Regions from separate parts of the Homo sapiens genome. Here region 1 is linked to region 2. The links come from fine-mapping of genetic effects on gene expression. A gene starts in region 2. The other region holds a variant in brackets. All regions are shown on one strand. Distances are from middle to middle.

Region 1 (5,529 bases), 23 kb before region 2:
ACCTTGTTTTATTGTGCTTTGCGGATACTGAATTTTTTACAAAATGAAAGTTTGTGGCAACCCTGCATCAAACAAGACTATCATCACCATTTCTCCAAATGCATGTGCTCACTTTGTGTCTCTGTGTCACATTTTGGTAATGCTTGCAATGTTTCAAACTTTTTCATTCTTTTTAGTGTAATACCATAAACCTTGAATAATATCATGAGATCCATATAGAGTGCCCCTAGTGACACTGAAATTGCTCCCAAGAAACAGAGAAAAGTCATGACATTACAAGAAAAAGTTGACTTGCTTGATCTGTACCATAGATTGAGCTCTGCAGCTGTGGTTGCCACCATTTCAGACAGATTATTCATCTTGTGAACAGGCAATGGAAACTTACGGTATCAATACATACAGTACAGTGCTGTAAATGTATTTTCTTCTCCTTATGATTTTCTTAATAACATTTTCTTTAGCTTACTTTATTATAAGAATATAGAATATAATACATATGCAAAATATATGCTAATTGACTGTTTATAGTATTGGCAAGGTTTCCAGTCAAAAGTCAACTATTAGTAGTTAAGTTTTTGAGAAGTCAAAAGTTATATGCAGATTTTTGACTGCATGGCGGGGGTCAGCCTCCGTAACTTTCACATTATTCAAGGGTCAACTGTAATAATAATTGCTTATGTATTCTTTGCAAGGCCCTGTGCTAAATGTTCCATAAACATTATCTCATTTGGCCTTCCCCCAAACCTTTACATTAGGGGCAAGTATTGTTCTCATTTTGCAAATCAGTGAGTTGAAACCTAAAGGGATCAAGTAAGTTGTCTCTCTGTCACACAGCTGAGTGTGTTTGGAAGCAAGACTAAAATCTAGATCTGCCTGACTTGAAGGCCCCTTTTCTTATCAGAATGTGGTAGATACAGGTTTTATCCATCCTTCCTCACAGACAAAAAGTAGCATGGTTCATGGTCATGTAAATACACACCCTGAATATTTACCCTTCTGATCACCTTGTGTAGAGGGAACATCCGCATCCAAGAGACGCCTGCAGTCCAGGGGGCTCCAGAGGGAGGGAGTCCTGTGGATGTGGAAGATACGCTTTTGTCTGAGAGTCATGAGATTGGACTGTGGGTCCCTGTTGTTGTTAACCCCTGTGTGATCTTGGGCAATTCACTGTTCCTGTCTTTACCTCTACTTGCTCCTCAGTAAGTCAGAGTGAACTGAGATCTCTTCCTGAAATTACTTAGCCTAATTCTATGGTTGGTTTCTGGTGGCCAGGAACCAGAAATAAATCTCTCAGCAAAATTTTGCTTATGGACCATGAATCTTAGAGTATCCATGGTATCACTGATATCTTTAATTCCCAGATATTTTCCAGTAATGAAATTCATATAATAAAGCCAGGATCTCTGGTTCTTAATGTGGTGTTCTCGAGATCTCTGACTCTGTCTAACCCCGCTTCCCCCAGATCTATCAAGTTTTAGTCCGTGCTGCTGGCCCGCCATTCCTTAGGAGTGCCTTGATCCTGGCCTGGTCACTTTTTTTTTTTTTTTCAATCATAAGGCACTAATTCCTACAAAGGGAGAAAACTCAAGGGTATGATAGTCATCCATCTTGGGAGGCTGTGCTCTGGAGTTGGGCAGCTTATGTTTCCCACCTACCAAAATTGTCTCCCTGCCTAATCTGTCCAAGGTGGGCAGAAAAGGTTGTTTCCATTTATGACTTCCTTGCGGAACTCAGTTTCCATGATGCCACTTCAGTACCACGCCTAGCCCTATATTAACAGCACGGTAGATTGGACACAGGGCCTCTTCTCCCAAGAATTCATCAATCCATAAGTTTTCATTAAGTAAATTAAACTAAGGCTCTTGCTAGTGCCTTCTTGGCACAAGAAACTTGTCAGTTTCTGGAATCTCTAAGGGTTCACATCTCCCCTCCCTCATCTCCATCTAGTCTTATTATTATTATTATTGAGATGGAGTCTCGCTGTGTCACCCAGGCTAGAGTGCAGTGGTGCGATCTCGCCTCACTGCAACCTCTGCCTCCTGGGTTTGAGCGATTCTCCTGCCTCAGCCTCCCAAGTAGCTAGGATTACAGGCGCCCGCTACCACAACTGGCTAATTTTTGTATTTTTAGTAAAGACAGGGTTTCATCATCTTGGCCAGGCTGGTCTCGTACTCCTGACCTCATGATCCACCCACCTTGGCCTCCCAAAGTGCTGGGATTACAGGCGTGAGCCACTGCACCCAGCCTGTATTATTTTT[G/A]TTTAAATAATTGTGCTGGAAAAATCATCCTGCTTGGGAAAAAAAAGAAGTAATGCAGGAAGAGGCATGGGGCCGACTCAGTGTGCTACGGCAGTCTTTTTGAGAATGACAGCTTGGGACACAGCCAATGGAAGAATTCACCTTCCTGATCTTCTCAGAAATGGCTTTAGAATGAGGTTATGGGCATAAAATATGCCTTCCTTTGGGCTCACTGCATAACTTTGGGGAGTGAATTTAACCTTGCAGTGGTCCAAGTGCAAATGTCCAAGGTGTTACTTCCCATAATTTTGTGACAATGAGAATTCTTGAAATACCAGGAGAGCCTTGCAAAAATAAAGTGACCTTGCAAAAGTGACATTTCTGGCCACTGCTGAAACTATAACAGGACTTAAAATGGAGCTTTCTTGTTTGTCATAAATTTATGGCCTCAATTTACTGTGAGACCGACCTCTCCAGTTGGTTCTGGGGGTGTCTAAATCACATGTCAGCATCTTACACACTGTGGGCCAGTGATGACGAGGGCTGGATTTTCACACATGGGAAGGCCAGGTGGCACCACTTTTGCTTATGACTTCCATTTACCATCTCCCTCTTTCCACTTCTCCTGCTGCTTGCGAGAACAGATCCACATTTGCTAACCTAGACCTCATGGGAGTTAGAGTTACCAAACAAGGAGAAGAAGGCCCTTAGCTTGGCAAAACTTCAAAAGTTTCTAGTTTCTAATCTAAAGGGGCAAAACTGTAGCCATACCTTGGAATGAAGACTGAAGTTTCCCCAGGACTGCTGAAGTCTCACCAATGGCTAATCAAATGTCAAATTTTCACAGCAAGAATTTTCCAGAAGGGGAACAGGTAACTGGATGTCAATTAAATTCCCTGGGCCTTAATTCTTTCATCTGTAAAATGAGGCAGTAGGAGTCACTGGTGTTCCACAGTTCTTTCTTGTGTCAGCTAGTCAGCTATGTAAGAGTCTTTTTATTCTTTTTTGTTGTTTTTTTTTTTTTTTTTTTTTTTTTTTAAATTTTTGAGACAGGGTCTCGCTCTGTCACCCAGGCTGGAGTGCAGTGATGTGATCTCGGCTCACTGCAGCCTTGACCTCCCAGGCTCAAGCGATCGTCCCACCTCAGCCTCCCGAGTAGTTGGGAGGGACCACAGGCATGCACCAACATGCCCGGGTAATTTTTAAATTTTTTTGTGGAGACAGAGTTTCACCATGTTGACCAGGCTGGTCTCGAACTCCTGGGCTCAAACAATCTGCCTGCCTTGGCCTCCTAAAGTGCTGGGATTACAGGCATGTGCCACTGCACCCAGCTGTCTTTTTATTCTATTGCATTCAAGTATTATTGCCAAAGGCTGATGTTACCTAAAATTAGCCATTTTATTACTATTTTTTTTGGCTAAAAAAAAAATCTCCAGTTCTCTTCCCCCTTCACACTATAAAATACAATGATTAGTAAAAGCTCATGACTTCTATCTTGCTCTAGCTCAGCAAACAACAGGAGGCTTTCATCCTCCTATGGATATATTTCAGATCTCTTCACTGATTTTTCTTAGGTGTCTATAGTATCTTGGGAGGGTTTCTATTCCAAGCTAACCCTATATTCTCTAAAGACCTACCCAAATATTCTAGCTTTAACTTCTCAGCAAAGTTCTATTCTTGTACTTCCAGTTGCCCATAGGGAATTTTCACTTGGAAAGAACATCTCATCATAAGACAGTTAACAGATATTTTTGAGTGGCTATGGTATATCCATCATTATGAGTAATCTAGAAGAAACATTAGACATTGCCTCTGTTCTTTTTTTTTTTTTTTTTGAGACAGAGTTTCGCTCTTGTTGCCCAGGCTAGAGTGCAATGGCTCAATCTCAGCTCACTGCAACCTCTGTCTCCCGGGTTCAAGGGCTTCGCTTCTCCTGCCTCAGCCTCCTGAGTAGCTGGGATTACAGGCGCCCGCCACCACGTGCAGCTAATTTTTTGTATTTTTAGTAGAGACGGGGTTTCACCGTGTTAGCCAGGATGGTCTTGATCTCCTGACCTCAGGTAATCGACCAGCTTTGGCCTCTCAAAGTGCTGGGATTACAGGCGTGAGCCACCGCACCCAGCCACCTCTGTTCTTAAGAAACTTAAATTACAACGGAGGAAAAAACAAATATATTCATCCAGGAAACACTTGTTGAGGATCTATTTATGTGAGATACTTTAAAGTCTGATAGGAAATGTCACCATGTATCTCAATTTGCCAGGAACTGTCTTATTTATACCTGTTGCATTGGTGTATTATAAATAGCAATCCTTCTGACCTTCAAAAATGCCCTAGTTTGTGTGGCAGATTAGAAGATTGCTTTGATGCTGGGAAGTGATAGGGCCCTGATAACCTCATCCACTAGAGTCAGGTCAACGGAGAAGATTACCATAGCAACTAAGGACCATTATGTTAACAGAAACAGATATTATCACAACCTGGATATGTTTGTAATTTGGATGAGGCAGTCTCATTCATTACCTGAGATATTTCTAGAAGCTGTATTCATGTTGTTGGTTAATCTAATGGAAAGTGTTATCTTCTCCAGCTTACAATTCTGATCAGCATCTATGCCTCTGGGATAGGCTTAGCCTATGCTGAGACAGGTCAGATCTCATGTCTATGGGGAATGGACCAAGGAGAAGCCTTAAAGAGTGCGCAGGCCAGGTGTGGTGGCTCACGCCTGTAATCCCAGCAGTTTGGGAGGCCGAGGCGGGCAGATCATTTGAGGCCAGGAGTTCGAGACCAGCCTGACCAACATGGTGAACCCCATCTCTACTAAAAAATATAAAAAGTTAGCTGGGCGTGGTGGCACATGCCGGTAATCCCAGCTACTCGGGAGGCTGAGGCAGGAGAATTGCTTGAACTTGGGAGACAAGTGAGCCGAGATCACGCCACTGCACTCCAGCCTGGGAGACACAGCGAGACTCCACATGAAGAGAAGGGACCTGAAGTCTCATGAGCTCAGTTCCATAATCATGCCTGGGTGGCTACTCCATGCTGGGCACTCCTCTAGTCAACAGGGCAGAAGGAATTTTATGAGCAGAGCCTGGAGGTGGGAAATAGCATGGGGTGTGTGGGGCCCACCAAGCAACTTGGCATTGGTGGACGTCTACAGTGTGTGGCAGTGGCCAGCAGGGGATGTGCTATGGGAATAGGCAGAGGCCAGACGATGGAGAACCTACATCAAGAAACATCGTGCTTTTTTAAAGCTTGGAAATGAAAAGATACCTCAGATGTGGCTCTATCC
Region 2 (5,000 bases):
ATTAGATTTCAGGCTAAGAACAGCCAGTTTTAGGAGTAAGAATTACATCGAATAGCCTTAAGAGCATTTAAAAAGTCAAGGCATCTTAAACTTCAGAAATGAAAACAAAACCAAAACAAAACAACAACAAAAACAACCTAACCCAACCACAAAACTCTAGGAGCCAAGGCACTCAGTATCTGCCTGTTGGTTATGTACAAAGCCACAAATGGGAGGTCTTTTCAAATTAATCTGGAAAATCCAAGCACAAGACTCTTAGCTTGAAAAGCCTGACAACTCTGCCTCCAAATCCAGGCAACTGTGCTTCCACTCCTCTTCTTGCTTGCCTTAGGAAAACTTCACTTTAGTAAGATAAGGCAAAACAGAAAATAAAAGAGTCGTTTAACCAAACTCCAAAAACAAACAAAAATAGAAAATAAAAAACCAACTTCCTACAAGTATACTTGTAAAAATATATTTTTAAAGCACCCCTAAGTAAACACCAATCTTGCCCAAGAAAAATCACAGGTTTGGGGCCTATCTGATAATGACTGTCCCGGAAGTCTCTCTTTTTTGAGACAGTTTCACTCTGTCGCTCAGGCTGAAATGCAGTGACGTGATCTCGGCTCACTGCAACCTCCACCTCCTGGGTTCAAGTGATTCTCCTGCCTCAGCCTCCCGAGTAGCTGGATTACAGGCGCCTGCCACCACACTCAGCTAAATTTTGTATTTTTAGTACAGACGAGGTTTCACCATGTTGGCCAGGCTGGTCTTGAACGCCTGACCTCAGGTGAGCTGCCCGCCTTGGCTTCCCAAAGTGCAGGGATTACAGGCATAAGCCACCACACTCGGCCCCAGAGGTCTCTTTTACAACAGCACTAACCAACAGACTTTAGTCCAATATGGTTAAGAACAATGAATCTCTGAAATTTCAGAGTTGGCAAACGTTTAAAATAACGTATAAGAACTTGGGTGAGGTTTTTCTCCCCTATCTCTTTACATACACACCATAAATAAGAACACCCAAGTCCATGTCCCTGGGTGCTGGTAAAGTGTTCTAGATAGTGTGAATCACAGTCACGATAAAACCATTTTCTGAAGGTTTCGAGGAGATATTGGATATGCAAATCAAATGTCCTAAACACAGCAGAAAAGATGACTCTTTGGGAAAGGAGATTCAAAATTCTCTTTTTTTTTCTGTTTGAGACGGAGTCTCGCTCTGCTGCCCAGGCGGGAATGCAGTGGTGTGATCTCGGTTCACTGTAAGCTCCGCCTCCCAGGTTCCCGCCATTCTCCTGCCTCAGCCTCCCAAGTAGCTGGGACTACAGGCGCCCGCCACCACGCCTGGCTAATTTTTTTGTATTTTTAGTAGAGACAGGGTTTCACCGTGTTAGCCAGGATGGTCTCGATCTCCTGACCTCGTGATCCACCTGCCTCGGCCTCCCAAAGTGCTGGGATTACAGGCATAAGCCACCGCGCCCGGCCCCAAAATTCTTTCATAAAGAATGAGACAAACCAGCCAAGCACGTTAAAGTCATTGAGCTTTCGGGGGAAAAATCAGATTTTTCCGGTGACTCGGGGTAAATGTGGGGACTTAGAAAGCTCCCCCTAGAAGGCAAAAGTAGAAGCTGAAAGTGTCCCCACTCTTGACTGTCCTGCCTTGTCAGAACCCTGCAATCTGTGACACCGCACAGGAGCCAGTGGGTTTTGATGACTGGTGTGTTGCTCTCTGCTGGAATACATCTGTGGGGTCAAGAAGCGGGAGGAGGAAATGCCTGTCTCAACCACTAACTAATTTGCCTTTATTATCTTTTCCTGAACATCAGATCAATTGTGGAAGAACATAAAATGCAAAACATGAACTTGCAGAAAACAAGAGCCAATCCCATTTCTCTTCTGCAGCTGCACTGGAAATGTGCGTCAGCTCAGTGTGTCACAGCAGAGATACACGTGGACGGGGAAGCACAGCAGCTTGCAGGAAAGGCCTGGCTGGCAGAGAGCACCCAAAGATGAACACAATGAACAGTGAGGGTCTCACGCGAGGTGGCTGGGGCTGAGTGGCTTTTGGCGACTGATGTCCCACATCTGAGTGGAGAGCAGAGGAGAGACTCCTCCAGCTTCATCAGCACTGGCATAGGCTTGATTCCCATCCATACCCTTTCCAGCACAGACGTGCACAGACTCTCGTGGCTGCCACAGTGCGAAAGCGCGCCAGCCACCACTGCTCCTTTGAGTGAGACACTGGTTGTGTAATCTGAACCTGGCTGGATTTGCTGTTTAAGAAAGAAGTGAAGAGGATCCTTTTATTTTCCCAAACGGGGCCTCATGGAAGTTCCACGTTGCTCCTCCCTGGCCTTCCATCTCCACTGCACAGTGAGCAGAGCTAGGCTTGTCTGTGGCAGCTCCGCCACGCCCTGTCACCTGCAGTCACTAGTAGTAGGGCCCTAGCTTTTCATATCCTAAGTAACTTGGCCACTCTGGAAACAGACCATAGGAACACCGAGGGCTTCCGAACTGGTCAAAGGATATTCCCAAATCCGGTCCACTGTGGGGCTTGGTCATTCCCTGGGTAGATTTTAACTCAGCCCGGATGATCCTATAGTTCTTGCCTCTGTTGCTGTCCCAGTACGTCTGTCCATTGCACTCGTAGTACACAGCAAACTCCATTCTTTCATAAGACTGAATCTTCTCGGGCAAGCTGATGTCGAAGGAGAACGTGTCCCTGTCTGAACCGGCATAAGTGTCCTTCACGTACTGACAAGGAAAGTCTGTGTAGCTCTTCCAGGTGTCGAACGTCATCCTTATTTTCACGGTCTTCTCAAATGCGAGGTTCTGAACCTTCACAGTGCCTGCAATGGCCTTGTCCTTGAGCACACAGTTCTCAAGGCAGACGTGGTCGGCCTGAAGTCGATTTCTAAAGTCTAAGTAATCTGCAGAGGGCTGGGAAAAATCCAGAACAAAGCTCTCGCTCTCTGCTGTCGTCAAGCTCACAATGTTGTCTAGGAGCTCGGTGATGTTGAATGGCATATCTAGCGGGTCATCGAATTCCGAGAACACTTTGACCATTGTCAGGGCCAGCCCCTGGTTGTCTGCGAAGGACACCCGCTTTTTCACCTTCTTCTCCTGGACAGCCGGGGCCACCATTCCACTGGCTTCATTCTTGCTGCTCAGCTGAATACAAGGCCTCAGTGGTTTGCTGGGCTTTGGTGAGATCTTAAAGGCAAACCTCTCTTGGCGCAAGGAAGGAGCCATGCAGTTGTATCTGTACTCGATGTCCACAGCCATCATGGGGCTAGATGAACAGGCTAGAACCGTGGAAAGGGAAGAGAAGAAAGAAAACAGTGGAGCAATCAGATCAGACAGATGTGTAAAGGCATCATTCCAGCAGGGACTGGCAAACAATATTTCCTTTTATCTATGCCCACCTGGCTACAGGTCAGGATTAACTCTGGTGTGGTCCAGCACAACATGCGTTTGAGAGAAGATTATGTTGTGGGGGGACGAGATGCGGTGGGGGGTGGGGGGTGCTTCAAGGTTAAAACAAACAAAAGAGTATGAAACCCACTAGTTTTAAAACTAAATGCACAGGTTTTTTGGTCAGCATTTCTTGGGGCCTTCCGTTGGCAAATGTGCCACAGAGGATAATCAAAAGGGCATATATACTGTTTTAAAATTTCCCAAATCTATTTGACTAAAAGGGTGTCTTCCACAGATAGCTGTCCTGAGGGACACTATTTATTTACGTATTTTTAGAGATAGGGTGTTGCTCTGTGCCCAGGCTGGAGCGCAGTGGCGTGAGCACAGCTCACTGCAGCCTCGACCTCCCAGGCTCAAATGATCCTCCCACCTCAGCCTCCCAAGAAAGTGGGACCACAGGCGCAAGTCACCATGCTTGGCTAATTTTAAAAAATTTTTGTAGAGACAGGACTCGCTATGTTGCCCAGGCTGGTCTCACACTCCTGGCTCAATCCATCCTCCTGCCTTGACCTCCCAAGGTGCTAGGATTACAGGTGTGAGCCTCTCTGCCTCTCTTTATTAATTGAGAAGTAAAAATTGTATATTCTTATGGTGTACAACAGGTTTCCATATATGTATACATTGTGGAATGGCTAAATCGAGCTATTTAACATGCATTATATCACACTTTTTTTGCAGTGAGAACACTTAAAATCCACTCTCAGCAATTTTCAAATATATAACATATCATTACCAAGTATAGGCACCATATTGTACATCAGATCTCTTGAATTTATTCCTCCCGTCTACCTGAAATTTTGTATCCTTTGGCCAAAGGATACCTCTCCAGTCCCTCTACCCTCACTTTCTGGTAGCCACCCCTGTACTCTCTGTTTCTATGAGTTTGACTTTTTCAGATTCCACATATAAGTGAGATCATGCTATATTTGTCACTCTGTGCCTGACTTATTCACTTAACATCCTCCAGGTTCATCCCCGTTGGCACAAATGACAGGATTTCCTTCTTTCTTCAGGTAGAATGGTATTCCACTGTGTTTATATACCATGTTTTCTTTATTCACTCATCCAATGATGGGCACTTAGGTTGATTCCGTATCTTGGCTTAGTGAATAACGCTGCAATGAACATAAGAGTACAGATAACTCTCCGATACACTGACTTCAATTCCTTTGGATATATGTCCTGCAGTGGGATTGCCGGGTCATATAGTAGTTCTAGTTGTGGTTTTTTGAGGAGCCTCCCTACTATTTTCCATAATGGCTGTACTAATTTACATTCCCACCAGCAGGAGACAAGGGTTCCCTTTTCTCCACGTCTTTGCCAATACTTATTTTCTTTGGTCTTCTTGAAAATAGCCATCCTAACGGGTGTGACGTGACATCTCATTGTGGCTTTATATTTGCTATAATCTGATAAAAAGAAATGGATTCATCCCACAAATAGGGATTGGGTGTTTCCTATATGGCAGGCATCAAGCAAGATACTGGGATTCAATAGTGAAGATAGACACAAACCTGCTTTCATTAAGTTTATGGTAGGTTTTT

Direction of the effects. Positions count from the first base shown, and alleles are read on the strand shown. Sizes are in standard deviations (SD) of each study's normalised expression.
For the expression in testis of the gene that starts at base 3,035 in region 2, allele G in region 1 goes with a lower level than allele A (small effect, 0.26 SD a copy in GTEx).

Evidence for each region. PIP is the estimated chance that this variant, and not a neighbour inherited with it, causes the effect.
Region 1: its variant is fine-mapped to the expression of PPP1R3B-AS1 in testis (GTEx, PIP 0.90).

What each region holds. Positions count from the first base shown.
Region 1 is chr8:9,115,335-9,120,863 of GRCh38, forward strand. LOC112268402 (a long non-coding RNA gene) reads right to left here. Exons shown (of 3, transcript XR_007060803.1): 3 at 339-1,072. Among named protein-coding and RNA genes, the nearest start is that of PPP1R3B-AS1, 23 kb to the right of the region's middle. The variant G/A (reference allele first, on the strand shown) is at 2,259.
Region 2 is chr8:9,138,385-9,143,384 of GRCh38, forward strand. It overlaps PPP1R3B-AS1 (PPP1R3B antisense RNA 1), which reads left to right and starts at 3,035. Exons shown (of 2, transcript XR_007060810.1): 1 at 3,035-3,414. PPP1R3B (protein phosphatase 1 regulatory subunit 3B) reads right to left here. Exons shown (of 2, transcript NM_024607.4): 2 at 1-3,284. The coding sequence starts at 3,267. The coding sequence ends at 2,410. RefSeq lists an enhancer at 2,105-2,604.